2 linked regions of the Homo sapiens genome follow. The protein of the gene in region 2 purifies or fractionates together with the protein of the main gene of each other region. This does not show direct contact. Each region holds a gene or a part of one and is shown on either strand. Other genes may lie near its edges.

Region 1 (4,560 bases), on a different chromosome or scaffold from region 2:
CATAGAACCCAGGACTTTTGCTTTGGGGCTAATGAATTTTCTACTTCACTTTGTTGTCTATCGATTAACTAGTTACTGTCATAATAAACAGTCTTGATTTGAAATTTGAAGTTTTTATCTGATATAATGAGAAGTTTTTAGTCACCATTACAAATCCTGGTCAGAGTGCTATGTTCCACATAAACCTGTAAAATGGAGCAAAGTTCAGGCTCCCCCACAGGCTTCACCAATGCCAGCAGTACCACTGAATGGCTACTTCTGAAGAAAATGTTAAAAACAAAACTTTCTCCTTGCCTCCTATGTGTCAAAGTGGAATTCAAAATTCTATGTCAGCACATTCTATAAGTAAAACAAAAACCATTAAGAACCCTATCCTCTGCAATCCCTCTCCTCTTCCGCAATAACAAAAGGTGAAATCTCTATTCAAAGTCCATTCTGCAATATAAAAACAAAACAAAAAAACCCCCACAAAATCCAAAGGAAAGTCATAAAGTACAGCAGAACACAAGGTTTGGTCTTGATACTGGCTTGTTCTTAGATAATTCAGTTAACCTTTGAGCTTCAGATATTTCAGTTAAATGAAGATAAAAATACAGTATTCACTTCACGGAAGTTGCTACAAGGAATAAAATGTGATATATACATATAGTGCTTAGCTTAGTATATAGTAGCTCAGGAAGCAAAAAATCAAAACAAAGAACACTACTTCCAGTTCACTTCCCTACCCAAGAATATGGCTGTGAGTGGCTGGAAAGTATTCCTATCAAAGTGGCTTCATCCTGCCTAGCTCTGGATCATGCTTTGTCTGAAAGATCTTGAGAACAGACTGAGCATGATTAGACAGAACAGCCATAGAATCGACCTGGCTTTTAGAACACCTCATAGAGCTAAGGTAAAGAGAAACCTCTTGAGACGGAGTCTCGCTCTGTCACCCAGGCTGGAGTGCAGTGGCGCGATCACGGTTCACTGCAAGCTCCGCCTCCCGAGTTCACACCATTCTCCTGCCTCAGCCTCCAGAGTAGCTGGGACCACAGGCGCCCGCCACCATGCCCAACTAATTTTCTTGTATTTTTAGTAGAGACAGGGTTTCACCGTGTTAGCCAGGATGGTCACGATCTCCTGACCTCATGATCCGCCCATCTCGGCCTCCCAAAGTGCTGGGATTACAGGTGTGAGCCACCACGCCCGGCCAAGAGAAACCTCTTTGTATTACCAGAGAGAACACATAGACCAGAACCAAGTTCTGTTGAGGCCTGTGTGCCATATGGGCCACAAAAGACATGCTTAGAGATATGGAGCTGAGAATTTAAAGCCTCTGTCATGTTCCTTGTTCAGTTCCTCAAGTGGTCCTAACAATTCTACTCCCATCCCATCTCCAATTTGCCTAACATCTGCACCTGAACTGTGCAAAGCACTTTATATACATTATCTCATTTAATCCTAAGAAGAATTTTGGGAGTAGGTGCTTTTAATCTCTTCCCTTAACCAGTGCACAAACTGAGTTTCCGAGGTTAAATACCTTCTGCAAGGTCGCACATATATGACAGAGCTATTGCTTAAAACTAGTTTAGAACCTGAGCTCCTTGTATCCAACCTGGATAATAATAATTGGCAGATAGAAAGCATGGAGAAAATTCTCAAATGACAATCTTCAATCGTTATTAAATTTTATCTTGAAATTGCATTTCATTTTTTTTTTTTTTGAGACAAAGTCTCACTCTGTTGCCCAGGCTGGAGTGGAGTGGTGTGATCTCAGCTCACTGAAACCTCTGCCTCCTGGGTTCAAGCGATTCTCCTGCCTCAGCCTACCGAGTAGCTGGGACTACAGGCGTGTACCACCATGCCTGGCTAATTTTTTTATTTTTAGTATTTTTAATAGAGATAGGATTTCACCATGTTGGCCAGGCTGGTCTTGAACTCCTGACCTCAAGTGATTCGCCCACCTCGGCCTCCCAAAGTGTTGGGATTACAGGCGTGAGCCACTGCACCAGGCCAAAACATTCTATTTTCATGATTTCTTACTTAATGCTAATACTCAACACTATAGCTATATACACATTTTTTCCTCTATAATTTTATTCACTTGGATCGGAAAGGTAAGCTTAACAAGACAGCATGAAAACATAATGTAAAAATAAGAAAATATACTTACTATGAAATCATCATAAAACAAAGTGTGACTAACTTGCAGATGTCTTATTAAACTGCCACTGAAGCTGCTTGGATTCTCATCGGGTATTAAACGGCAAAGTGGACAGAACTGGAAACAAACAAGACCAGGGGTTCAAGAAAGAATTTAAAATCGTTATTAGTGTTAGAATTAAAAACAACGGCTGGGCGCGGTGGCTTACGCCTGTAATCCCAGTACTTTGGGAGGCAGAGGCGGCCGGATCACCAGGTCAAGAGATGGAGACCATCCTGGCCAACATGGTGAAACGCCGTCTCTACTAAAAATACAAAAATTAGCTGGGCGTGGTGGTACGTGCCTATAGTCCCAGCTACTCGGGAGACTGAGGCAGGAGAATTGCTTGAACCCGGAGGCAGAGGTTGCAGTGAGCCAAGATCACACCACTGCCCTCCAGCCTGGCGACAGAGCAAGACTCCGACACACAAAAAAACAAAACAAGACGGGGTGCAGTGGCTCACACCTATAATCCCAACATTTTGGGAGGTTGAGGCGGGTGGATCACGAGGTCAGGAGTTCAAGACCAGCCAGGCCAAGATGGTGAAACCCTGTCTCTACTAAAAATACAAAAATTAGCTGGGCGCAGTGGCAGATGCCTGTAATGCCAGCCACTCAGGAGGCTGAGGCAGGAGAATCACTTTAATCTGGGAGGCGGAGGTTTCAGTGAGCCGAGATCTTGCCATTGCACACCAGCCTGGGCAACAAGAGCAAAACTCTGTCTCAAAAAACAAGACAAAACAAAACAAACAATAACAACAAAAAACAACAACAGGTAACCATTCAAAAATAAACTGTCAACTTTATTCATCCATTAGCCATACCTCAGTATTATGTTATAAAATTGCATAAACATGAAAGCAACATTAAGCAAATAAAATTACATGTCTTCATATGCATTTCTTGCTCATATGCATACATAACAATATAACTATTTGTTTCATATTCATCAATTTATTATTTAAACAATATTACAATTAATACATGTACCATAATTTACTTAATTAGTTTGCCTACCTCTTGGAATACTTGTTTGTATATGGATATTTTACTATCACAAATGAGAATAACTATAGTGTTTACCTTTTAGGGGATTAGTTCCTTAGGAGAAATGACCAGAAATGGCAATTACCAGGTCAACAATTATGAACGTTGGCCAGGAGCGGTGGCTCACTCCTGTAATCCCAGCACTTTGAGAGGAGGCCAAGGCAGGTAGATTACTTGAGGCCCAGAGTTCAAGACCAGCATGGCCAACATGGTGAAACCCTGTCTCTACTAAAAATACAAAAATGAGTCAGACGTGGTGGTGCACACCTGCCTGCTATCCCACCTACTTGGCAGGCTGAGGCAGGAGAATTGCTTGAAAAAAGATTTCACTAGGTTTTGCCTGTACTCATATTTTTCAGTGTGTGTGTGTGTGATATAGTTTGGAAACTTGTCCCCACCCAAATCTCATGTTGAAATGTAATCCCTGGGTGTGGAGACAAAAAAATTAGCCAGGTATGGTGGCAGCACCTGTAATCCCAGCTACTCAGGCAGCCGAGGCACCAGCTCTGTCTCAAAAAAAAAAAAAAAAAAAAAAAGAAAAAGAAAAAGATTTCACCAGATTTTGCCTGTACTCATATTTTTCAGTGTGTGTGTGTGAGATATAGTTTGGAAATTTGTCCCCGCCCAAATCTCATGTTGAAGTGTAATCCCTGGGCGCCGTGGCTCATGCCTGTCATCCCAGCACTTTGGGAGGTGGATCACTTGAGGTAGGAGTTCATGACCAGCCTGGCTAACATGGCAAAACCCATGTCTACTAAAAAGACAAAAAAATTAGCCAGGCGTGGTGGTGCACACCTGTAGTCCTGGCTACTCCAGAGGCTGAGGCAGCAGAATGGCTTGAACCCAGGAGGCAGAGGTTGCAGTAAGCCGAGATCGCACCACTGCACTCCAGCCTGGATGACAGAGTGAGACCCTGTCTCAAAAAGAAAAAAAAAAGGACTTGATGGATTAAAAAAAAAAAAAAGATACAGACCATTCTGTCACTGCAAAGGAATGTCAGTGCGTTGCTATCCTTTATTTCCTTCTCTCTCCCTAACCTCTGCTCTGTTCCCCATATTATTATTATTACTATTTCGAGAAACTTATATAAATAGAACTATACAGTATTTAACCTTTTGAGATTGGCTTTTCCCATTGAGCATGACTTTGAGATCCATCTAAGTTGCTGGGTGTATCCATAGCTCCCTCCTTATTACTGAGTAGTATTTCATGTATGGATGTCCCACAGTCTGCTTATCCATTTATTTTGTAAAGGGCATTTGGGTTGTTTCCAGTTTTTGGTTGTTAAGATAAAGCTCCAAGAAATATTTGTGTACAAATGTTTGCATAAA
Region 2 (5,167 bases):
TAAATAAAAAAGATCCATATAGCTGGACACAGTGACTCGTGCCTGTAACCTCAGCTACTCGGGAGGCTGAGGCAAGAGGATTGCTTGAGCCCAGGAGTTTGAGGCTGCAGTGAGCTATGATCATGGCACTGCATTCCAGCTTGGGTTTCATCTGAAAAAAAATTTAAAAAATTCATCTAGTTCCACCTCAGAGCTTCTGATTTTATTTCCATGGATGTGGCCTGGGCTTGCGATTTTCTTTTTCTTTTTTTTTTTTTTGAGATGAAGTCTTGCTCTGTTGCCCAGGCTGGAGTGCTGTGGCATGATCTTGGCTCACTGCAACTTCCACCTCCCAGGTTCAAGTGATTCTCCTGCCTCAGCCTCCCTAATAGCTGGGATGACAGGCTCGTGCCACCACACCCAATTAATTTTTGTATTTTTAGTAGAGAGAGGGTTTCACCATGTTGGCCAGGCTGATCTTGAACTCCTGACCTCAGGTGATCTGCCCGCCTCGGCCTCCCAAAGTGCTGGGATTACAGGTGTGAGCCACCATGCCCAGCCTGGCCTGAGGATTTTTGTGAGCACTCCTGATGCTGTTGTGTAGCCAGGAGTGAGGACTGCCCTCTGATCACCCAGCACAGAACGTTCAGGGCCATGTTGGGACAGTGGACTGGTAAGGGCGAGAGGAGGACACTGGGGAGCAGGCTGTAGGGTGCCACAGTCCGCCACAGTCACAGGCTCATGCTCTCCGTCCGAGAGGAGGCAGAACTGCTTTTACCAAGGCTCATCCAGCCCTCTTCATTTCTCTGGGAACAATTTTTGGTTTCGTGACCCATTTCTTAATCCCCGGAAGGCATTTCTCTGAACTGGTGCCAGGCACCCCGGCCCCCAGCTCCAGTTAGTTATTATTCGAGGCTGATTTCTTTTCTGTCTGTCTTCCTTCTAATTCCTAGATTGGTGAACAGCCACCTCACTTCCAGTTTTTGCCGGGGCCTCTTTTCAGTTCTGAGCACCAGCCAGAGTCTAACTGAATTGGACCTCAGTGACAATTCTCTGGGGGACCCAGGGATGAGAGTGTTGTGTGAAACGCTCCAGCATCCTGGCTGTAACATTCGGAGATTGTGGTGAGTCCCCGTGCATGTGATCTGTGTGAGTGCAAGTTCATATGAGAGAGAGAGAGAGAAACAGACTGGAGAAAGATCTTCAGGACCAGGTTGCTGGTGTGGTTTCTTTCTTTTCTTTTTCTTTTTTTCTTTTTTTGAGGCAGAGTTTTGCTCTTATTGCCCAGGCTGGAGTGCAATGCCGTGACCTCGGCTCACTGCAATCTCTGCCTCCTGGGTTCAAGTGATTCTCCTGCCTCAGCCTCCTGAGTAGCTGGGATTACAGGCACCCACCACCATACCCAGCTAATTTTTTGTATTTTTAGTAGAGATGGGGTTTCATCATGTTGTCCAGGCTAGTCTCGAAGTCCTGACCTCAGGTGATCCGCCCGCCTCGGCCTCCCAAAATGCTGGGATTACAGGCATGAGCCACCGCACCCGGCCGGTGGTGTGGTTTCTGCTGTAACAAAGTGCCACAGACTGAATGGCTTCAACAACAAAAATTCATTTTCTTGCAGTTCTGAGGCCGAAAGTCTAAGATCAAGGTGTCAGCAGGGTTGGTTTCTTCTGAGGCCGCCCTCCTTGGTTTGTAGATGCCCCCTTCTCCCTGTGTACTGATGCCATCTTGCCTTGGGGGGAAGAGTGGCCTAGTCTCCTCTTCTTACAGGGACAGCAGTCCTGATGGATTAGGCACAGTCAGGCATGACTACACAAGACCTAATGTTAATCTAGTCACTCCTTTAAAGACCCCATTTCCCAAAACAGCCACATTATGAGGTCTTGAGGATTAGGGCTTCAACATGTAAATTTTTGGGGGGGCACAGTTCAGCCCAGAACAAGTGAGAAGGTAGAATGGGTTGGAGGCCAGCTGGGGAAGTTTTGTGTGGGGAAGAATGAATGAGGAACTAAAAAAAAAGTCATTTCTTGAAACAACCATGATGCTCGATATATTCCATTTCCTCATGGGCCATGTTCATAGATGAGAGTTGGAGAATTTGCCATTTACAACAATGGCAACCTCACCTAAAAACTATGAAAATACTTTTTTTTTTTTTCTTTGAGACAGGACCTCTCTCTGTCACCCAGGCTGGAGTGTGTGATCACAGCTTACTGCAGCCTCGACCTCCCAGGCTCAAGCAATCCTCCCACCTCAGCTCCCCCGAGTAGCTGGGACTACAGGCATGCACCACCATGCTGGCTAATTTTTGTATTTTTTTTGTAGAGATGTGGTCTCATCACGTTGCCCAGCCTGGTCAGAATGCTTTGTATGGGTTGAAATGTCACAGGGAATCTCCTGTGACTTTATTAATAATGTGCTTGCTCACACCTGTAGTCCCAGCTACTCGGGAGGCTGAGGCAGGAGAACTGTGTGTACCCGGGAGGCGGAGATGGCAGTGAGCCGAGATCGTGCCATTGCACTCCAGCCTGGGTGACAGAGCGAGATTCCATTTCAAAATAATAATAATAATAATAATAATAAAAAATGTGCTTGCTTTCTCCCACACCATGAATCAGATTCACACGCCCCACCGCGCTGGTGCCTGGGCCGCCTCACTAGCTCTGTTTCATTCCCTGCTCTGTGGACGCATGCAGGCGTCTGCATTTTTGAGGAGCTGCACAGCAAGTGTTAAAGTCCGCCACTCTAGGACATTTTGCTACCTCCCTCTCCGGCTCAACACACTCACCTTGTCACCAGTCTTATCAATTTTTCCTCCTACCCGAGCTGTTTTCCACTTTTCCTCGTCCTCACCCCACCAGCCCAGGTCCAGCAACTGTCACCACTTGCCTGGACACGCAGTGACCTCCTAGACCATCAGCTCCCCGGGGATGGGGTTTGCGTTTGTTTGTCTTGCTGTCATCTTTGCCACGCCTGGACAGACATCTTAGTACCCATCAGTGGTCAAAAGCACGCACTGAATGAATGTTGGCTCTTTGGTCTCCCTGTGTCTGCCTTTTTCCCTCACCCGACCATTCTCTGCACAAAAGTAAGATGGTCCTTTAGAAAATTCTGATTCGATTGTGCTGTTCGGTGGCTTAAATGCTTTCTGTCTGCTCTGCTCTTTATTTTTTACTTTATGTATTTATTTTTGTAGATGTAGGGGGCGCAAGAGCAGCTTTGTTTCATGGATATGTTACTGCACAGTGGTAGTGTCTGGGCTTTTACTGTAACTACCCCTTTTTTTTTGAGATGGACTCTCGCCGTGTTGCCCAGGCTGGAGTACAGTGGAGTGATCTCGGCTCACTGCAACATCCACCTCCTGGGTTCAAGCAATTCTTCGAGTAGTTGGGATTACAGGCATGGGCCACCACGCCCAGCTGATTTTTGTATTTTTAGTAGGGACAAGGTTTCACCGTATTGGCTAGGCTGGTCTCAAACTCCTGACCTCGTGATCCACCCGCCTCGGCCTCCCAAAGTGCTGGGATTACAGGCGTGAGCCACCGTGCCCGGCCTTAGTGTAACTCTTACCCAAATAGTGAACATTGTACCCAATAAATAATTTTCCAGCCCTCACCTGGCTCCCACCCTCCCACCCTTCTGAGGCTCTAGTGTCTATCATTCCATGCTCTATGGATGTTACCCTTTGTTTAGCTCCCACTTGTAAGTGAGAACGTGTGGTATTTGACTCTGTTTCTGAGTTGTTTCACTTAAGGTAATGGCCTCCAGTTCCATCTGTGTGGCTTCAAAGATGTGACTTCATTCTTTTCTATGGCTGAGCAGTATTCCATTATGTATATAGATCACACTCTTCATCTTTGCTCTTTTGGTAAATTTCAAATCGTAGTGCCATGGAGACTGGTTGTTTGGGACATTTAACCTTATTTCTCCAACTTCATGCCCAAATTCTCTCCCCACTGCCATTGCCCCTGTATGATTCTGGAGAGGCAGACACAAACAGGGAAGGGTAGGGGACAGTGAGATGCTTCGCAGAGAAGTAGAGATCCATTTGTCCATTTGCTTGAAGTTGGTGTAAGGATAGGGACAGAAAGGAAGGTGGTCTAACAGGCTCCAGGACCTATGAACTATTGCCCTGGAAAGAAGCTAGAATGTTGTTCTTGCCCCCATGACAGGGATAAAGTATAGTTTTTGTTGCTGGTGGTGGTGGTGACGGTGGTAGTGATGTGCGTGTGTGTTTGTGTGCATGTGTGTGACGGGGAAACTAATCAAGAATCAGAGCTGCAGCGGGATGTGGAATCCCAGCACTTTGAGAGGCTGAGGTGGGCAGATCACCTGAGCCCAGGAGTTCAAAACCAGCCTGAGCAAGCTGGTGAGACCTTGTCTTTAGAAGATAATAATAATAATAAAAATAAAATATAAATAAAATAAAATGGCTAAGCATGGTAGCACATGCCTGTATTTGCAGCCACTTGGGAGGCTGAGGCAGGTGGATCCCTTGAGCCCAGGAGTTCGAGGTGGCAGTGAGCTATGATCTCGCCAGTGCACTCCAGCCTGTGCAACAAAGTGAGACCCTGTCTTTAAAAAAAGAAAAGAAAAGAAAAGAAAAAGAATCAGAGCTGCTTTTCCTTTCAATATAGATGGAGGGCTGGGATGAAATCGTCAAACACAATGGGGTGACAATGTTGGTGAAGACAAGAAATAGCTGAGTGCAGCACTGGCGAGGGCAGTGCCGACTGCGGGCACGTCAATGGTTAGGAACACGAGGGAAGGAGGTGGGTGCACAGGCCCACACCGCCCGCTTCACTTACAAACCAGGAGCGCACCATTCACATGTCTGGGGGGTGATCTCAATGCACCCGGCACTGTTTACGGCCGGGAGTTCACTGACAGGTGATCCCTCTGCTGTGACTGGGGAGACTGGGGGCTGACCTCCCAATGTGCCTTGTGCTGTATTCCGGAGCTCTCTGGTCAGGTGTATTCTGATGCTTTCTCTATTCCAGAGCTCTCTGGTCAGGTGTGTCCTGATGCTTTCTCTATTCCAGAGCTCTCTGGTCAGGTGTGTCCTGATGCTTTCTCTATTCCGGAGCTCTCTGGTCAGGTGTGTCCTGATGCTTTCTCTATTCCGGAGCTCTCTGGTCAGGTGTGTCCTGATGCATTCTCTATTCCAGAGCTCTCTGGTCAGGTGTGTCCT

Evidence for each region. The genes of interacting proteins can lie anywhere in the genome.
Region 1: the proteins of NLRP3 (region 2) and RNF125 purify together in Homo sapiens (affinity purification with western blotting, with the first as the bait; one study listed by BioGRID). This does not show direct contact.

Annotation. Positions count from the first base shown.
Region 1 is NC_000018.10:32,063,602-32,068,161, reverse strand, and holds part of RNF125 (E3 ubiquitin-protein ligase RNF125), read right to left. Parts: intron 2,261-4,560; coding exon 2,153-2,260; intron 1-2,152. UniProt on the Homo sapiens protein: E3 ubiquitin-protein ligase that mediates ubiquitination and subsequent proteasomal degradation of target proteins, such as RIGI, MAVS/IPS1, IFIH1/MDA5, JAK1 and p53/TP53.
Region 2 is NC_000001.11:247,428,653-247,433,819, forward strand, and holds part of NLRP3 (NACHT, LRR and PYD domains-containing protein 3), read left to right. Parts: intron 1-932; coding exon 933-1,103; intron 1,104-5,167. UniProt on the Homo sapiens protein: Sensor component of the NLRP3 inflammasome, which mediates inflammasome activation in response to defects in membrane integrity, leading to secretion of inflammatory cytokines IL1B and IL18 and pyroptosis.